2 separate regions of the Homo sapiens genome follow, and region 1 is linked to region 2. Evidence: fine-mapped expression QTL. A gene starts in region 2. The other region holds a variant in brackets. All regions are shown on one strand. Distances are between the middles of the regions.

Evidence for each region. PIP is the estimated chance that this variant, and not a neighbour inherited with it, causes the effect.
Region 1: its variant is fine-mapped to the expression of ZNF655 in whole blood (INTERVAL, PIP above 0.99).

The regions. Positions count from the first base shown.
Region 1 is chr7:100,387,475-100,395,474 of GRCh38, reverse strand. PILRA (paired immunoglobin like type 2 receptor alpha) reads right to left here. Exons shown (of 7, transcript NM_013439.3): 3 at 5,369-5,587. Among named protein-coding and RNA genes, the nearest start is that of PILRA, 18 kb to the right of the region's middle. The variant A/T (reference allele first, on the strand shown) is at 4,282.
Region 2 is chr7:99,553,503-99,564,979 of GRCh38, reverse strand. ZNF655 (zinc finger protein 655) reads right to left here and starts at 6,338. Exons shown (of 3, transcript NM_138494.3): 1 at 6,193-6,338; 2 at 4,285-4,447. The coding sequence starts at 4,420. It overlaps LOC105375422 (a long non-coding RNA gene), which reads right to left. Exons shown (of 3, transcript XR_927801.4): 2 at 11,349-11,455; 3 at 9,023-10,244. It also overlaps a transcript of FAM200A not described here. RefSeq lists enhancers at 6,264-6,533, 6,564-6,693.

The DNA.
Region 1 (8,000 bases), 830 kb before region 2:
AAAGCAAAAATTATTTCTCACAGTTCTGGAGGCTGGGAAATCCAAGATCAAGGTGCCAGCATCTTGCTTTTTGCTGTGTCTTTCAGAGGGGAGGATTACTGTGTCCTCACATGGCAGAAGATTAGAAGACAGTGAACCCACTCCTGAAATCCCTTTTTATAATGGCATTAATCCGTTTGGCAGAGCCGTCATGACCTAAGCACCTCCCAAAACACACTACCTCCCAGTTGTCACACTGGGGACTAAGTTTCCAATACATGATTTGAGGAGACACATTTCAGACCATAGCATATATCATCTCTGGAGAAATGTCTGTTAAAATCCACTGCCCACTTTTAAATTGGGTTGATTTTTTTGTTGTTGAATTATAGGAATTTTTATATATTTCAGATTTTCACTCCTTATCAGATATATAATTTACAAATATTTTCCCCATTCTATAGGTTGCCTTTTGATTCTATTGATTGTGTCCTGTAATGAAAAAACATGTTTAAGTTTAATGTTGTCCTATTTGTCTATTTTTTCTTTTGTGGCTTGTGCTTTTGGTATCACAGGCAAGAAATTATTGCCAAACCCAGTGTCATGAGGCTTTTTCCCTATGGTTTGGGGTCTTACATTTAGGTCTTTAATCCATTTGGAGTTAAATTTTGTATATGGTATAAGATAAGGATCCAACTACATTCTTTGGTTTGGATATTCAGTTTTCCCAATGCCATTTGTTGAAGAGATTGTCCTTTGCCCATTAAGTGCTCATGGCACCCTTGTCAAGTCTTTTGACCATATGCGCAAGGGTTTATTTCTAGACTCTGTATTCTATTCCGTTGGTATATTAATCTATTTTTTTTCAATTCAGCTCCTTTTTTTTTTTTTTTTTTTTTTTTGAGATAGAATCTCACTCTGTCACCCAGGCTGGAGTGCAGTAGCACAATCTCGGCTCACTGCAACCTCCGCCTCCCAGGTTTGAGTGATTCTTGTGCCTGGCCCATGGTGTATAATTCTTTTGCCGTGCTGTTGAATTTGGTTTGCTGGTATTTTGTTGATGTTTACATCAATATTTATCAGAGTTATTGGTCTGTAGTTTGTTTTGTTTCTGTTTTTGTTTTTCTTGTAGTGTCTTTGTTTGGCTTTGGTATCATGGTAATGCTGACCTCACAGAATAAGCTTGGAAGCATTCCAGCTGTCTTTTGTCATTATGCCACTGTACCTGCTCTTAGACTTCATTGAACTCTTATCCCGTGATAATCTACTTTTCTACAGATTATTCAGACTCCCTGCTGACCCCTCTGCTCTTCATTCCTGCCTTCTCACTAGCTCCTTGACCTGTGATCTCCTGTCTTTCTGCCACACTTAGCTGGCAAGTCTCTAATCCTGGGGGTGTCTTATGGCAGAAATGGTATTTGATTACCCAATATCTATTCAATTATTCTTAGTTACAGAAAATTGATTGTATTTGGAGTGGGAGGGTTCCCCCTACAGATAGCTGTGGGATATGTGACCAAATTCTAGCCAATAAGATATAAACTGGGTCGGAGGGGCGGGGATCGGCTGTGTGGAGAGGGCCGGGGCTCTCACACGTGAAGAAGTTGTTGTTAGGTCTTTCAGAAAGACTCTTTAAAAGGGAACAGAGAGTTGAGGCATAGTATTTTTTTTTTCCTTTCTTCCTTCCTCCTATTTTTTGCCAGGAACCCAGAAATAGTGGCTGGAATCCTTGCAGCCGTCTTGGGCTATGAGGCAACCTTTGGGACAGAAGCCAGCATCAGGGCTGGTGAATCAGAAAGGTAGGAACCTGAGTGTCTAAGAACAGTGATGTGCTGTCTGCTTCCAGATCTGTTTACAAGAGGAAAAAAATAACCCAACTCTGTCTTGTTTAAGCTACTTTTACTTCTGGTCCCTGGTGGTAGCAACTGACAACAATTCCTGACCAACACAAATCACTAAGGTCTCAAAATCTGAATGGTTGACTACTGCTGGGGAAAAATGCAGCCATGCACAACACTGCTATCATAGATTTACAGTTTCGTATCTGAGCTGAATCCTCAAACTCCACTTCCCATTTCCTCAGTGACTATGTCAAACTTTCTCTTCAATTCCCTGACCCTCTTATTCATTCTCAGGAGAAAAGTGCTGTGGTTTTTGTTCTGCAGAATTAAAAAAAAAATCATAAGTGGTTGATTTTAATTTTTTTTTTTTTGTTTGAGACAGAGTCTCGCTCTATCACCCAGGCTGGAGTGCAGTGGTGTGATCTCAGCTCACTGCAGCCTTCACTTCCTAGGTTCAAGCGATTCTCATGCCTCAGCCCCCCAAGTAGCTGGGATTACAGGGGCGCATCACCATGCACAGCTAATTTTTATATTTCTAGTAGAGACGGGGTTTCACCATGTTGACCAGGCTGGTCTTGAACTCCTGACCTCAAGTGATTTGCCCACCTCGGCCTCCCAAAGTGGTAGGATTACAGGCATGAGCCACTGCACCTGGCCAGATTTTAATATTTTAATCCATGGCTTTGGGGCTTGGTCATACTGAGGAAGACTGTCTCTACTGCTTATGAAATAATCTCACATTTTCTTCTGGTACTAGGGTTATTTTTTTTCTCATTTAAATCTTTGATCCCTGTGGAATTTATTTTGGTACAAATTATGAGGTAAGGAGATAATGTTATTTTTTCTCAGATGGCTACTGAATAGTTCCAGCACCATTCATGGAATTACTCATCTTTCCTCATTGATTAGAAACATTTTAACCAACTAAATTCCCACATATATTTGGGTCTCTTTTCATTCTGTTATACCTAGGTTTTCCTCTTTTCTTCCATTGCTTTATCTGTGTATGAATATGCCAATATTGTACTGTTTTGTCTTTTAAATGTATTCATACGATGGTGCTCCCATGAGAGCCAGTGTTCCCTGGTTTAATGCCCACTGTTTAGTCATTCTAACTGCTGATGCTCCTGTGGCACACCCTCTGCAAGATCTAAACACAGTACATTTAATCATCAGGACAACCCCACGTAGGTACTATCTTCACTCCCTTTGCCCATGAGGAAGGTGAGGTGCACAGCCTTTGTACCAACAAGGCTGTTTCCCTGGCGAAGGTGTGAGGCCAGGATCTGACTGCAGGCAGCCCCAACCCCATGCTCCTCCCCTCTGTGCTTTCATAGCTGATAGGGCAAATCTCCTTGCACTCTGTCACCCAGGCTGGAGTGCAGTGGTACTCTCTCAGTTCATTGCAACCTCTGCCTCCCAAGCTCAAGCAATTCTTCCACCTCAGCCTCTCCAGTAGTTGGAACTACAGGTGCGTACCACCACACTTGGCTAAGTTTTGTATTTTTAGTAGAGACAGGGTTTCACCACATTGGCCAGGTTGGTCTCACACTCCTGGGCTCAACTGATCTGCCCAGCCTGGCCTCCCAAAGTGCTGGGATTACAGGCGTGAGCGGGAGCCATCATGCCTAGCCCATTGCAAACATTCTTGATGGTAACTTCAGATCAGGTTTGGAGGATGTTGGGGTGGAACTCATTAATGCCTCAGGCCTTGTCCTCTCTTTTGAACTGTAAATGTGTACTCTGAGTTTCCAATGGACAACTCTGCTGAGATGCCACACATGGATCTCCAGTGTAACAGATCCCAAATTAAATGAGGCATCGTTCCCCTCCAAGCATGATCTCCTCTCTTCCCCATTGTACTTGGTGATTTCATTACAGCCTCATCCACTCAAGTGGAAACAGGGGCTTATTCCTGCTCCCTCGCCCCTACATCAATCTAACAATCAACTTATTTATTTATTTATTGAGATAAGGTTTTGCTCTGTCAGCCAGGCTGCAGTGTAGTGGCACAATCATGGCTCACTGCAGCCTCGACCTCCCAGGCTCAAGCAGTCTTCTCACTTCAGCCTCTGGAGTAGCTGGGACCACAGGCGCACGCCACCACACCCAGCTAATTTTTGTATTTTCTGTAGATACGGGGTTTTGCAAAGTTGCCCAGGCTGGTCTTGAACTCCTTGGCTCAAGAGATTCTCCTGCCTTGGCCTCCCAAAGTGTTGAGATTACAGGCATGAGCCACCCTGCCCAACCAACCAAGTGTCATTTATAAAAAATTTTTTTTAAATTATTTTTATATTTAGTTGGAGATAGTTTGCTCCGTCTCCCAGGCTGGAGTGCAGTGGTGAAATCACAGCTCATTGTAACCTTAAACTCCTGGGCTCAAGCAATCCTCACATCTCAGCCTCCCAGTAGCTGGTACCACAGGCACAGGCTACCATGCCCAGCTAATAATAATAATAAT[A/T]ATAATAATTATTATTATTATTATTATTGTTATTATTATTTTGTAGAGACAGGGTCTCCCTGTGTTGCCCAGGTTGGTATCAAACTCCTGGGCTCAAGAAATCCTCTTGCCTCAGCCTCCCAGAGTGCTGGGATTACAGGCGTGAGCCACCTCAACGCACCTCACCTCTTTGGTTTTATTACTTAATCTTTTCCAGGATCTGGCCCTTTTCCTCTTTCCACCTCACCCCTGCACTGCACTGACCCAGCCTGGCCCACCTCTGGCCACTCCTCCATAGACTGAGGTCTCTCACGGTAGCTGAGGTCACCCTTTACTGCTTCATGCTGCCTCTGGGATCAGAGGCTCTTGGGTGTGATTTCCAAGGTCCTCTCCTTTCCTGCCTCCTCCACCAGCACTGAGCTTCCTGCAGCTCCTGGAATGGTTTCCTCCACCCACAAGGAAAGTGAGTGACCTCTACACCACCCTCACCACTTGCCAGGCTAATTCTTTTTCTTCTTTGAGACTTTTGCATATATCACCTCTGGGAAGTCCTCTCTGATTACCTCTCCTTCTTCCCACCCTTATTAAGTGCTACCATAGTTCTTTCTCAATGAAGCAATTAGTCCTTGAGGCAACTGAAAACCCCACACCCCTAGTTCCCTGAGAGCAGAGTCTATGGTTTATGCTTTATCTACTTTGCTTCTGCAGTTTCAAGCCAGGCCGTGGCAGGTGGGCAGTTGGCCAGTGCCTGCTGAGCTCAGCTTACTTCTGGTCCCTTCTGCTCTCTCTCTCCTTTTCCCAGGGCAGACCCTCCCCTCTCCTCCCCAGGAACCTTCAGGGGAGGTAGATGAGTGATGACTGAGAGAGAAGAACTAGGGGGGGATCGGCTGTGTGAAAAGGGCTGTGGGCTCTCACATGTGACCCTGCCCCGCCCCACTGCAGGAGCCTCACAAATGCAGACACCTCAGCATAGGCCACGAAGTCGGCCTCGGTGGGCTTGAGGGGAGCCAGCAGGGTCTGCATATTTCAGGAGCCCCATAGCTGCAGGTGGGCTTTGAGAAACCCCCAGATGGGAGGCTTGGGGAGAGGGCGGGTCCTGGGCACTTACCTTTCCTTCTCCTCCACCTGAGGAGGCAGATCAGTCCCAAAATCATGATTCCGAGCACAGTGACAGCCACTGCCACCCCCACAGCAGTCTCCAGACTTATGTGCCAAGAGTCTGAGCGTCGTTTGCCCTGTGTGACCCTGAGGCCGGTTGTGGTGGTTGTGCTACTGAGCCTCCAGGTGGTAGTCATGCTGCTGGGCCTCTGGGTGGTGGTCGTGACAGCTGGGGAGAGATGAGGAATGAGCAGACCCTCCCCTGGGGGCACAGGGTGTCTGGGTGAAAGGCGTGGTGTGCTGCTTTCTAGGTTGGGGGACATTAGTGGTGAGGGAGCTCCTCTCTGAAGCCCACACAGGGAGCGGGGAACAGGGTGAAATGTTAACAGCTTTCAATGCAGACGACTCAGTTCATTTTATATTATTTTTCCTTTCCTTCTTTTCCTTTCCTTTCCTTTCCTTTCCTTCCTCTCTCCCTCCCTCCCTCCTTCCTTCTTTCCTTCATTCCTTTCTTCCTTCCTTCCATTTCTTCCTTCCTTTAATTTTATTTCTTCCTCCTCAAATTCAGCTTAACAGGCAACTCAGTTTAAATCCGATTCTATACCAGTTATCAGCAGGGTGACCTCAGAACCTCATCTCCTCACTCACAAATAGGGATAACTAAATCACAGGATCAAAAAAAGTCTATTGTTGCCAATACAGGTAACATAAAATATGTCATTTTAACCATTTCTACATGCACCGTTCAGTGGCATCAAGCACATTCACAGTGCTGTGCAACCATCACACCATCCAACTCCAGAACCCTTGCATCTTCCTCAATGGAAACATTTTTTTTAAGTTAAAAATTTATTGACATTCTGATTGTGAAAAACTCTAATATTACTTTTAATTTATAATAGGAGTTACTTCCCAAAAATGTTAATCACAGATGAATTGAAAGAGTCTTTGGGATTTCACCCATTTCACAGCCCCACGTCTTAACGGAGTGCTTTTTTATTTATTTCAAGATATAGAAATCTCTACTGAAGAGGAAAAGGATACTGGAGATCTAAAAGATAGCTCTCTCTTGAAAACAAAAAGGAAACATAAGAAAAAACATAAAGAGAGACATAAAATGGGAGAAGAAATTATACCATTAAGAGTACTATCAAAGTAAGTCTGTGGTTTAAATTCTGTCATTGGCTTAACAATCCACCTCAATGGAAACATTTCACGTGTTAAACAACTCCTCATTCCTGTGTCCCCACCCTTCTACCCCTCTACTTTCTGTCTCCATGAGTTTGACTAAATACTTCATATTAGCTGAATCATACAGTGTGTTTTTACAGGATTGTCTTTTTTTTTTTTTTTTTTTTTTTTTTTTTGAGACGGAGGCTCGCTCTGTCACCCAGGCTGGATGGAGTGCAGTGGTGCAGCCTCGGCTCACTGCAACCTCCGCCTCCCAAGTTCAAGTGATTCTCCTACCTCAGCCTCCCGAGTAGCTAGGATCACAGGCACATGCCACCATGCCCAGCTAATTTTTGTATTTTTTTTTTCTTTTTTTAGTAGAAACGGGGTTTCACCATGTTGGCCAGGCTGGTCTCCAACTCCTGACTTCAGGTGATCTGCCCGCCTCAGCTTCCTAAAGTGTTGGGATTATAGGTGTGAGCCACTGTGCCAAGCCAGGATTGTCTTAATAAGTGAGAACACATCTGTAAAAAACCTACTGTATATTGAAAATATGTTTTTAAGGTCACATTAATATATATTGACCTTCACATCCTACAAACAAGTTACACCTTCTTTATAGATGTTTCACGCACCCTTAAAAAATTGACATAGTACTCAGCCACAGGACAAAAAAATCAGGCTCCTTAATGTCTTCAAGTTAGTATGAACTAAAATCTTCATCCACTCTTAAGAGAAAGTAATAAAAGTGTAAATGCTATGTCTTGATTGGGAATTTTAAAATGTTTTAATTACTTAAAGGAAAACATGTATAATAACATACTGTTTAGAAAATAAAAACTAGAGTAATACATATTTTAAAAAAGAACCCTGGAGTATGACTAAAGCAACACTCTAAGCTAAATTCATTGTATGAAATGGATTTATTACTTAAAATGGGAAGAAATTTTTAAAACAAATAAAATATTCAGTTTCCAAAGAAAAAACCCCAAACAGGAGGAGCCAGCTGTAAAGAAACTCAGAGGAAGAAAGTAATGAAAAGTTACGTAGGAATAAATTAGGGAACAGATAGCCACAGGCAAAATAAATGCAGAAACTGGTTATTTAAAGGAGCAACAAGAAGAAGATAGACAAGACTAGCAAACCTAATGACAACAAAAGCCAGCTGCAGTCACGAGTGGGTATATGCTCAATTATATGTTGTTAAATGTTAAAATATCTGTGAAATGGGTGTCTTTTGGGTTTTTTGGACACCGTCTTGCTCTGTTGCCCAAGCTGGGGTGCGCAATCGTACCTCACTGCAGCCTCCACCTCCTGGGCTCAAGTGATCCTCCCACCTCAACCTCCTGATTAGCTGGGACTACAAGCATGAACCTCTGAGCCAGGCCTGGGTGATATTTTTAAAAATTGATTTAAGAACTAGTATACCTTGGGGCCAGGCACAGTGGCTCATGCCTGTAATCCCAACACTT
Region 2 (11,477 bases):
AACCCAAAAATATGAAAATGATTTCCCAAGGATTGTAAAAATAACTGCTAAGGAGATGCTGCTAACTTGATCACAAAAGCAAGATGAGTAGAAGGCTTTCTTGCACTGTGCGTGTCTCTTGTATGTGTAAAAGTGTGTATGCATGTCGACTGCATGTCGAGTGTGCAGTGCAGAGATAAGAGAGGAAATGGGATAAAGTTCAGTCTATAGCATACTATGCTATTAGACTGCATTAAACTGCTACAAAGTTTCTTTACTCCAAAAAGTAGACAGGTTAACTGTTGGAAACTCTGTAATTATTAGATAAAATTAACAGTACTTTACAATTATATGTATGTCACTTTACAGTTTACAAAGTTATTAAGTAGATATTCAATTTGATGCCCTGAAATAAATTTAACTTCTTTGCCCTCCCTTCTCCCCTCCATCAAGGACAGAGTAAGGAACACTTAATCAGGAAAGGCAATATAATTGCATCAATCTGTACAGAACCACAAAGAATAAAGGGTAGGAAGGTAGGACCTTGAAGAGGGCCACAGGGACTTCAAGGAAGGAGGAAACCAGAATGTTAAACATGAGGGAAGCCCAGGGTTCACAGGAGAGTTAGGCACCATACGGGGCAGGTTGTGTTCGCCACATAAAAGGAGGGGCACACAGCATAAGTTTCACATTCTAAAATAATATGAAAAGACCATAACTGAAGAGCTGAATTTGGAATTTCTGGTTTTTCACAATACAAGTAGATGATGACCACCAACCATGGTTTCTGAATGAACTGGGTTCAAAACATATCTGGTTGCAACAGAGGGCTTCCTTGGACCCTAACATTTGAAATTAAACAGAGGTAATTTGAGGAGCTGCGATTTTACACAGTGGTGGCATCCTGGGGAGCTTCTATTCCATCAGTCAATTTTAATATCTCACAATCGTGGAAAAGGAGTTTCCGAGCAGGGACGAGCAATATCGATGGGAAGCCGATACTTGGGCCATCTCTTGGAGATTCCTGCTGTAAGGACGGCAAGTGTTTCTCCAGAGAAAGCACTTGCCTGGGTATGACTCAGGGCCGGGCAGGAATTCACACTATGAATCCGGGTGGTGGGAAGGCGGAGAAGTATGCCTACAAAGATTAAAGAGCCAGGAATGGAAAACACACTAAAAACCGTCCCAGTGGGCAGCCTGCCTCCCCACAAATAAGAAGACCTTGAATCCTGAGCATAATCAGGGAGACAAAGCAATGCCCTGGATGCCACCAGCATAGACAAAGCCAACGGAAAAAAAAAAAAGAAAAGAAAATGCATGATTCAGTATTTACACACACAAAAAGAAGAGTGCAGAAGCAAGCAAGAAACTAAAGAAAAAGGAGGCTGGGTGCGGTGGCTCATGCCTGTAATTCCAGCACTTTGGGAGGCCAAGGAAGGTGGATCACTTGAGGTCAAGAGTTCGAGATCAGCCTGACCAGCATGGTGAAACCCCGTCTCTACTAAAAATACAAAATTAGGCGGGCGTGGTGGCCCATGCCTGTAATCCCAGCTACTTGGGAGGCTGAGGCAGGAGAATCGCTTGAACCTGGAAGGCAGAGGTTGTAGTGAGTTGAGATTGCACCACTGCACTCCAGCCTGGGCAACAAGAGTGAAACTCCATCTAAAAATAAAATAAAATAAAAAATATAATATAATATAAAAAATAAACTAAAGAAAAAGGAACAATGCTCACACCAAGGGAGCTGCCGACAAACCCCACTGATGCTTCCCAGCAGCACTACAGCTTGGCTAATCCCAGCTTCCCACTGTACCTTTCAAAATGACAAGGGAGAGACATGAGTTAAGCATTGACCCCACCTCAGCATGGGGTAAACATCTGAGATTTCTGCTGCCCTGGGTGTGGTTACGTGGGATTACCATTCTGGGTGACTCACTGAAATGTACTCACAGTGAGTCATGCCTTCAAATGACATCTCAAGTTCTGCCTGCTTGGAGATACATCTGGGGATCTTAAGGGGTGAGGGACTACTCAACAAGAAGGAATTTAGCCTGTCTTTTTAAATAAACGGCATTTCTTTTTCCTAGAAAAATGGGAAATTCTTCAATTCTCTAATACAGGGACACTGAGATAACAAAGAGGAAAGTGTCTGGTTGGAGGTTGGGAGGCCACCCTGGGGTCTCTCCTACAAAAATGGAAAAGAAAAGAACGGTGAGAAATCAAGCAAAGCACAAGAAAGTTTCCCTTTGCTAAAAGGGAAAAGATGCCCCACAATGGCCATAAACATGAACTGGGGATAAGGAGGAGAATGTCTCTTCTTGGCACCCCCAAACAAACGTTAATTACCCCTCCCGGAGAAGACGATGTGAAAGATAAGGATTCAGAGGTTCTAAGTCCTGGAATCTAAGCCACACTCTACAGACCTTCTCAGAGACCTTATACTTAGGAAGAAACAAGAAAGTAAAGAAATTCAAATAGATAAACCGAATAATAAGGAAGTCCTTACCCAGTGAGACCACGTTCCCATAATTCTCTAACATCACTTCTCTGTAGAGGTCCCTCTGAACAGGGTCCAGGTATCCCCATTCCTCTCGAGTAAGGTGCACAGCCACATCCTCGAATGTCACAAACTCCTGAAATAACACATCCTGGCTGCTCTGAGGAATGAGAACACTGTAGCACCATGGCCAGAGAATGAAGATCATAGAGAGGGTATCCACTGTGTACTTACGTTGAGGAGGAGGGAGAACAGATTAGAACCTACGGAATAAAGCCCATAACCCTTAAACATCTAATAAGCACCCATCACACAACCATGGACAAAGAGAAAACAGAGTTTGCTCATGGCACTGGGGAGATGGGAAGTTGGTTTATGTGAAGTCCAGGTCTCCGAAGAGGATCAATTCCCAAACTGGAGTCTGCTATTGAAAAAAATTCCAGGCAAGGTCTACAGATGGGATGAGAGAGAGGCCACACTCCATCAGTAGCAATAGTCCCTGAGGAAAAGCAGAGGGTTCCTCAGCTCACCTGGTACCTGGCTGTCAAGAGCGCAGCTGCCTGGTCTCCTGGGCTTCCCTCACGGGGAAGAGCAGGCACCTGAGGAACAGGTGGAGCTGAGGGAGGAGAAAGGAGTGAAGAGTGAGAGCAGCCCTTTCCCAGGGCTCCCTTTCAGAGGAGGCCTCTCCAGCCCAAGGGGTGTCAGCAGGACCCTCCTCAATACTCTAGTAAAACCAATGAACATTTTTCAGGTATTGGGTGTGTCTACTCTGCTTCGTCTCAGTACTTGCATGCCTTATGCGTGTTTTGACCTGTGATACAGGATTTTCTTAGGAAAGCTTGTATTTCACTTTATCTTCATCACATGACAGTCCTCTTACAGAAGAGTAAGACTATACCTGTTTTGCAGATGGGCAAAGCAAAGCATAAAGACTTGTGGGGACTTGTCCTGGGCTAGGGTTATTTAGCAGACTTCTGACCCTTTCCAGGCACTGTTCTAGACACTTGATCAGCGTTTCTCTTGTGAATGGGTGCTGTCTCAACCAGTGTGTAAGGCCCCCAAGAACAAGAAAGGGTCATCTGTTTCCTCGAAATCTTTTCCACAGTCCCACAATCCCCCACAGCACTCTACACATTGTGGCACTTGATCTGTGTGGGTGACACACAAGTTATTTCAGGCACTAGAGTTAACCACAGGCAATCTAAGACACAGCTCTTATAAAACAAAGGAAGAAAAAGACCAACCTACCTATACGATACAGCAAAGTGTGACTGCGTAGTCAAAATACAGTATATATACATTCATACAGGCATTGTGTTCAACCAAGGAATTAAATGGTTGCTTCCTTGACCAAATTTAGTCTAGTCACAAAACACTGCAGTTACAACAGAATGGATGGCAGGTGACAAAGCAAAGAAAAACTAAGTGAAGGGAACAGGGGAAAGAAAGGTCCTGAACCTAAGAGGAAGTGAGAGCCAGGAAAGGACTGTGAGATGTGGCAAAAGCAGCATATCTTAGAAATTATTCTGGATGTGAGAACTGGGATGAAGTGAAGGTTGCCTGAAGGAAAAACCACCACAGCGAGTAAGCAGCCATCACTCTGCTTATTTGAGAAAGATGAGCTATCCTTAATAAAGGGGCTCAGACTAGGACTGAACTGAGTCACATCTGCCCCCTCTTTCATTCCTCCCTCTAGGGACCATGTTCTTATTCCAGTTCTTGGCCTCTCTCAAACCAGGCCCAGGAGCCCCCTCGGGAGCCCCTCCGCACTCCCACTCTCCCAGACGGAAGTGCTTTCTCTGCCTTACCCCCAGTGAGTCCCTGTTCCATGTCGGTGTCCTGCACAAACTGAGGCTCTGGGGACAGACACTCAGACTGGGTCTCCAAAGACTGAAACTGGACCCTTGGTGACCCTGCTGCTTCCTGGGCTGGTATTTCCTCCATCACTGCTCTGGAGGACAATGACCATCACTGCAAGGTAAGATTAAGAGAAATTACTGTAATAAGTTAAAGCATTTCATCATTTTATATCGTCAGGACTTTGCAAAGGATCTTACACACTATGGATATTCAATAAAAATTAGTTGATAATGATTAACCACCCTAAATAAGTAACAGAAAAATGGGGCCAGGCGCAGTGGCCTGTAATCCCAGCACTTTGGGAGGCTGAGGCGGGAAGATCACTTGAGGTCAGGAGTTCAAGACCAGCCTGATCAACATGGTGCAACTTCTTCTCTACTAAAAATACAAAAATTAGCCAGCGTGGTGGTGCGGGTCTGTAATCCCAGCTATTCGGGAGGCTGAGGCAGGAGAATTGCTTGAATACAGAAGGCATACGTGGCAGTGAGCCAAGATTGCACCACTGCACTCCAACCTGGGCAACACAGTGAGACTCCGTCCCAAAAAAAAAAAAAAGAAAAAAAAGAAAAAGAAATATGGATATGCTTCAGCTTTAAATACTTAAGAACCAAATCATAGAAGAGTCTCTAATTTGGAATTTGTGGCATTAAAAAAATTAACACGGTACAATTTAATAGTGTAAAGCTTTCTGTGGAAACTTTAAAATATTTAAAATTGGCCACGTGCGGTGGCTCAAGCCTGTAATCCCAACAGTTTGGGAGGCACAGACGGGTGGATCCCTTAAGCTCAGGAGTTCCAGACCGTCCTGGACAACATGGTGAAACCCCGTCCCTACAAAAAAAAAAAAAAAAAAAAAAATTAGGTGGCCCAGGCCTGTAGTTCCAGCTACTCCAAAGGCCAAGGCAGGAGAATCGCTTGAGCTTGGGAGGTAGAGGCTGCAGTGAGCTATGACTGCGCCACTGCATTCCAGCCTGTATGACAGCGTGACAGCCCACCTCAAATAAACAAAACAAAATATTTAAAATTTACAATCGTCTTTGGAGGCTCAAGTTGGTGCCCAGAGAAAAATGCTAGTTATGATTGCTCATTTTATTTTAATTTTGTTTTAGCAGAGATGGGAGTCTCGCTATGTTGCCCAGGCTGGACTCGAACGCCTGGCCTCAAGCGATCCTCCCACTTCGGCCTCCCAAAGTGCGGGGATTACGGCGTGAACCACCGTGACAGGCCCGCGTTTACGTAAATAAACTCATTTAAATAAATAAAACAGCAGGCCCCCTAGGAAATGTCTTGGTAACACCGTCAGCCCACTCCGATTTACTACACGGGCTTGGCGAATAAAACTCCACTTTTGGGGTCAGGCCCTTCGCTAACTCAGACCAGCTAGACCGGCCTTTTCCCGGAATCCTGAGAGCAACGCAGGTAAGAGCTGCGGTTCGAACAGGTTTGAGCGGCGTCCTTCAGGCCCAAGGACGCATGAGGGTGCCGTCCCCCTCCCACCACCCTCGCCCTGGGCCCCTGCCCGGCTCCCAGCTCGGTCCTCAGAAGGCCTTGCCCGGCGCTGCCCTCCTCCCACTTCCCTTTTAGGCCAAGGCAAAGTCCCAAAAGGACCAGTGAGGACATACAGACCAGCTCGCACCAGGGCACGGTCGCCGGCTCCTGACGGCGGGGCCCTCGGTCCGCGAGGTGAATGAACCAGGGCTGAAGAGAAACAGGCCCTCCTCGCACCCGGGCCTCCGCGCACTCTCGGGGAAGCGAACTACCGTCGGCCGCGGCCGGACGCCGCCTCCTTCTACTCCCGTGAAGGCAAAACAAGCTGCCACCCCGCTGCGACCCCAAAACGGCTTCCGGGTACTCACCGAGGGGAGGGGCGGGCCTGGCCGCTGTCCTGTCACCTACACACTCGCGCTCGGGGCCACCACAGCCTCTCCCGGGCCGCTGTAGACAGCCCCGAGGCCGGCGCTTCTCGGTGGCACTTCCGGCGACGGAGTGCAGGGTCCCGAATGAGGGCCCCCCCTCCTCCGCCCAGGCATGAGGGTCCCGGATGTGGGTGAGAGCCCCGGATGAGGGTCCCGGATGTGAGTGAGGGCCCCGGATGTGAGTGACGGCCCCGGATGAGGAACTCGGAGGAGGAGCTGGGCCCGCGCGTCCATGATTCGAAGGCTCGTTTTCGCAGCTTTTCCACGTCTTTTTCCGGTCCCACTGCCCTCCATGCTAACTCACTGGGCGTCTCTAGCCGTTATACCAACAATGACTGCGACCAGTGTTGGGAAAGCGCCCCCTGGGCCCCTCCCTGACGCCAGCCCATCCTTGAGACTCCCTGCAAGGAGGCGGCCCGACCCAGTGGGTGCGTGTCGTGGGGTGAGGAGGAATGGCCGACCTAATGGTCCCGCTTCCGTGAGTAGCACAGGGGTGCCTGCTCAGAGTGTAGTACAACGCTGACAAGTAGAAGGCGAGGATTGCGGGGCCTGGGTGAGATGGGACCCACTAAGTTGTGGGATCGAAATCTCAGTAGGTCCTTGGGGAAAGCGGGGACGGGAGGGGAGATGAGCAGATTGGAATAGAACCGAGAGAGACGGAGGAAACTGACAGTTGCGTCCCTGGTGGGAAGACTAAAATCTATGCAGAAACAGGGATAGGCAAAAGCATTGTGCACAAGCGGGACAGGCAGAGCGCCGGGACAGAAACCCTTAGGACATTCTGACACCTTGCTGAACCTGGATCCTTACAGAATATGTCTTGTAGGTGAAGCTAGATCTGCAAGGCATAGGCAAGCCTCTTAGAGAATCAGAAAAGTGATTTGGAAGGAACTTCAGCTGTTACTACTTTGTTTAAGCAAATCAAATGCTGTTCTTTAATGTTACTGGACGTTTCAAATTAAACACAAGAAAACCTGAAGTGTGGCATTTTATATATTTTTTCAAAATGTATCAGCTTCTTGGAGATTCTGATATTCCTTTCCTCTCTTTATCCCTAAGTATCATTTATCCAACCTAAATTCATACTAGGACACAATCTCTCTAGTCTGCAGTGCCCGTCACAGTGGAGTCAGGATCGGAGAAAGAAAATGCACTGCTTAGTCCATTTCATGCTGGACAGCTCCAATTAGAAACTTTTCCTTGTGTTGAACAGAAATACACCCCTGGTGATGTCTATCTATTGTTCCTGTTGACAGGTCCCCAGGACAATAGATGACACAGTACTTCTTCCTCTTCATAACGGCCATTTTAATATCCTAGGAGAGCTAAAGGTTTGGAGTTCTTCCTGAGTTGCCATTTCCCCACCTAGAACCCTTCACAGGTTGTACCTATTAGCAATGTGATGGGAAACCATTTCAGCAGCAAAGGTGAGTGAGCTATGGCAGTGAGGCACATCGCGTCCAAGTTTTAGCTGACTCAGGCAATTGGCTCCAGTGAGAGGACCACAAAAGGTACCCACTTAAAGAGGCCACTTCCCACCAGTACTCATCAAAACATAACAAAGTGTTAAGAAACAGCAGCTGCTATTTTGCTTTTGAGCAAAATTTTCTTTTAACAGTTTGCCAGATGACAGAGGTGGAAACAACTCAAAAAATTGTTACCTTTTTTCGTTTTTGTCTTTTTGTTGTTGTTGAGACAGAGTCTTGCTCTGTCGCCCAGGCTGGAGTGCAGTGGCGCGATCTCAGCTCACTGCAACCTCCAGCTCCCAGGTTCAAGCATTTTCCCTGCCTCAGCCTCCAGAGTAGATGGGATTACAGGTGGGCACCACCACACCTAGCTAATTTTTGTATTTTTAGTAGAGATGGGGTTTCACCATGTTGGCCAGGCTGGTCTCAAACTCCTGACCTCGGGTGATCCGCCCGTCTTGGCCTCCCAAAGTGCTGGGATTACAGGCGTGAGCCACTGCACCGAGCCTGTTTTGTTTTTTTTAGTGCAAATTAACAAACTGATTCTAAAGTTTATATAGAAATGCTAAGGATTTAGGATTGCCAAAACAATTTTGAAAAAGAATAAAATTGGAATACTTGTATTTTTTTAAGATTTTTTTCCTAAAGGTACAGTAATCAGGATGGTATGGTATCAGCATAGAGACAAATAGATCAACAGAGCAGAACAGAAAGTCCAGAAATATGAGGTTGAATTTCTTAAAGAAAAAAAAGTCCAGAAATAGATCTAGATACATACAATAGCTGATTTTTTATAAATTACTAAGGTAATTCTGCATCTAGCTAAGCTGAAAATTAGGCCGAGGATCTGTTTGTAACAGTGACAGTAATGTAAAGGAGACCAATTGTGCAGACTCGGCAGGTCCCCTGAGTCAAAGTCGTGGCTCATACAGGGAGAGGGTGGGATCCTGAGACCTGTTCTCTGTCACAGTGTAGTCCGCAGGAACTTTACCCAACCATCATGATGGTCCATATATTGATGACAAATGCTAGTAGTACCCAGTGAGCAGCAAGTGACAAGGGTCATAAATATCCTAGTAAGACTTCTTACTAAGGCAGTACAGAAACCTGAAGATATGGGCACTTATCAAATGGATGAAGTTTTGGTGGGGCCCAGTGGTTTGGGGACATCACCCAAAGGTAAAAGAAAGTTGTTCCACCTTGCACCCTCTAATCCCAAAAAAATTGGTACAGGTCCTGGTGGGCCCCTTTGGATTTGGGAGGTAGCATATTCTGCACCTGAGAAAACTGTTCCAACACATGTATTAGGTGACCTAAAAAGCTTCCACTTTTTATTTATTACTATTTTTTTTTCTTGACACGGAGTCTTGCTCTGTAGCCCAGGCTGGAGTACAGTGCCGTGATCTCGGCTCACTGCAACCTCTGCTTTCTGGATTCAAGCAATTCTCCTGCCTCAGCCTCCCTAGTAGCTGGGATTACAGGCGCCCGCCACCATGCCCAGCATTTTTGTATTTTAGTAGTGGAGGGGTTTCACCATGTTAGCCAGGCTGATCTTGAACTCCTGACCTCAAGCAATCCACCCACCTCCGCCTCCCAAAGTGCTGGGATTACAGACGTGAGCCACCATGCCTGGCCAGCTTCCACTTTTTATTGGGGCAAGAGAGCACTCTATAGTAAATCCAAGCAACAGTGCAAGCTTACTTGCAAATTCAGTGGTTCCAGAAATATCCTTGATGGATACAGGTGCTGTATGGAGTTGCTGGCAAACCCCAATAAGAGTGTGCATTCGTGTGCTAGGGCTCCTATAACAAAGTACCACAAACTGGGTGGCTTAAACAACAGAAATCTGTTGGTTCACAGTCTGGAGGCTAGAAGTCAGAAATTAAGGTGTGGTTCCTATTGAGGCTGTGAGAAGGAATCTGTCCATGCCTCTCTCCTAGTTTCTGGGGATTTGCTGGATATATTTTGCATTCCTTGGCATCGTAAGAAGCATTTTCCCAGTCTTTACCCTCATCTTCATTTGGCATTCTCCCTGTGTACTATCTCTAAACTTCCCTTTTTTATAAGGATACCAGTCATTAGATGAGGGACCCACCCTAATCCACTATGACCTCATCTTGAAGTAATTACATCTGCAATGCCTCTATTGCCAAATAATTTCACATTCTGAGGTATTAGGGGCTAGAACTTCAACCTGTTAATTGGGGATGAGGTGGAGGTACAATTCAACCCATCATAAAGAGTCACAGCACAAATACCTAAGATTCTGGAGCAAGGTCATGCCTTCTAAGGCAAAAAAACAAAACCCACGTTTCCAAACTCCCAGGTCAGTTACCTCTGCTCTACTGCCACCTCTCCCATAAACTTACTCCTATGGCCTTATAAAAGTTCCCTACAACTAACTGATGGAGACAGAAGAGCCTTGGCCTCTGCACAGATTGGGGATTGGGTCAGTTCAGCATGTTGGCATCTTCCAGAAACAGACTGTTCTTCATTACAGCCCCACTCGCGTTGCCCTGAAGCATACTGGTGAAGAAAAATTATCTCAGTGAGCAATGGTACATTTGGTCACCCATGCCATATTTTGGAGGAGGTAGCCTAAGGTAGGGATATGCATTGACTCCTAGGCAGTGATGAATGGCTTGGCTTGTTGGTTAGGGACCATCTTATTGTTTATGCAATAGGCTTATGAACAGAGACCATGGTAGCAGGGATAGAGGCTGTGCGTGGTCCCAACAATATGGGCTACCTCTTATTTTTCTTTTTTTTTTTTTTTTTTTTTTGAGACGGAGTCTCGCCCTGTTGCCCAGGCTGGAGTGCAGTGGTGTGATCTCAGCTCACTGCAGCCTCCACCTCCCAGGTTCAAGCAATTCTCCTGCCTCAGCCTCCCGAGTAGCTGGGACTACAGGCACACACCACCGTACCCAGGTAATTTCTGTATTTTTAGTTGAGACGGTGTTTCACCATGTTGCTCAGGCTGGTCTCGAACTCCTGAACTTGTGATCCACCCACCTCAGCCTCCCAAAGTGCTGACATTACAGGTGTGAGCCACCGTGCCCGGCCAATATGGTCTACCTCTTACCAAGGCTGATGTAACTCTCACCATGGTGGAGTGTCCAGCCTGCCAGCATTAGAGACCAACACTGAGTCTTAGAGATACCAGCTACCACCAGGTTGAGTGCATCAGATCCCTTTTACCTTGGAATGGGCATCAATTTGTTCTTACCAGAATTGATATATGCTCTAAATGAGCTTGTCTTCCCCAACTACTTTGCCTCCAGCAGCACCACCATCTGAGAGCTTACAGGGTGCCTTATCCATTGACATACCTGAAACTAAGGAACCCACCGATAGCCAAGGAGGTGTGACAGTGAACTCGAAGCTACAAAATTCATGGTGCATACTCATCATCCAGAAGCAGCTAGCCAGATAGGGTTTTGGAATGGCCTGTTGAAGACTGGGCTAAATTGCGATTAAGATGTAATGCCTTGCAAAGTTGGGAGCAGTTCTTCAGAATATGGTATATGCGCTGAAATGCATTGGGCCAAAATGGATATATAGTATTGTGTCTCCAGTAGGACTATGTGCATACAGGAGTAGCCTCTATTACTATCACACCCAGCCACTCACCTGTAGAATTTGTGCCTCCTCGCTCCGAAATCTGGAGCCAGCTGGGTTATGATCCTCATTTCCAGGAAGAACATTTCCTCTAGGAAACATTAAATCGTGCCACTGAACTGAAAACAGAATACCACCAGG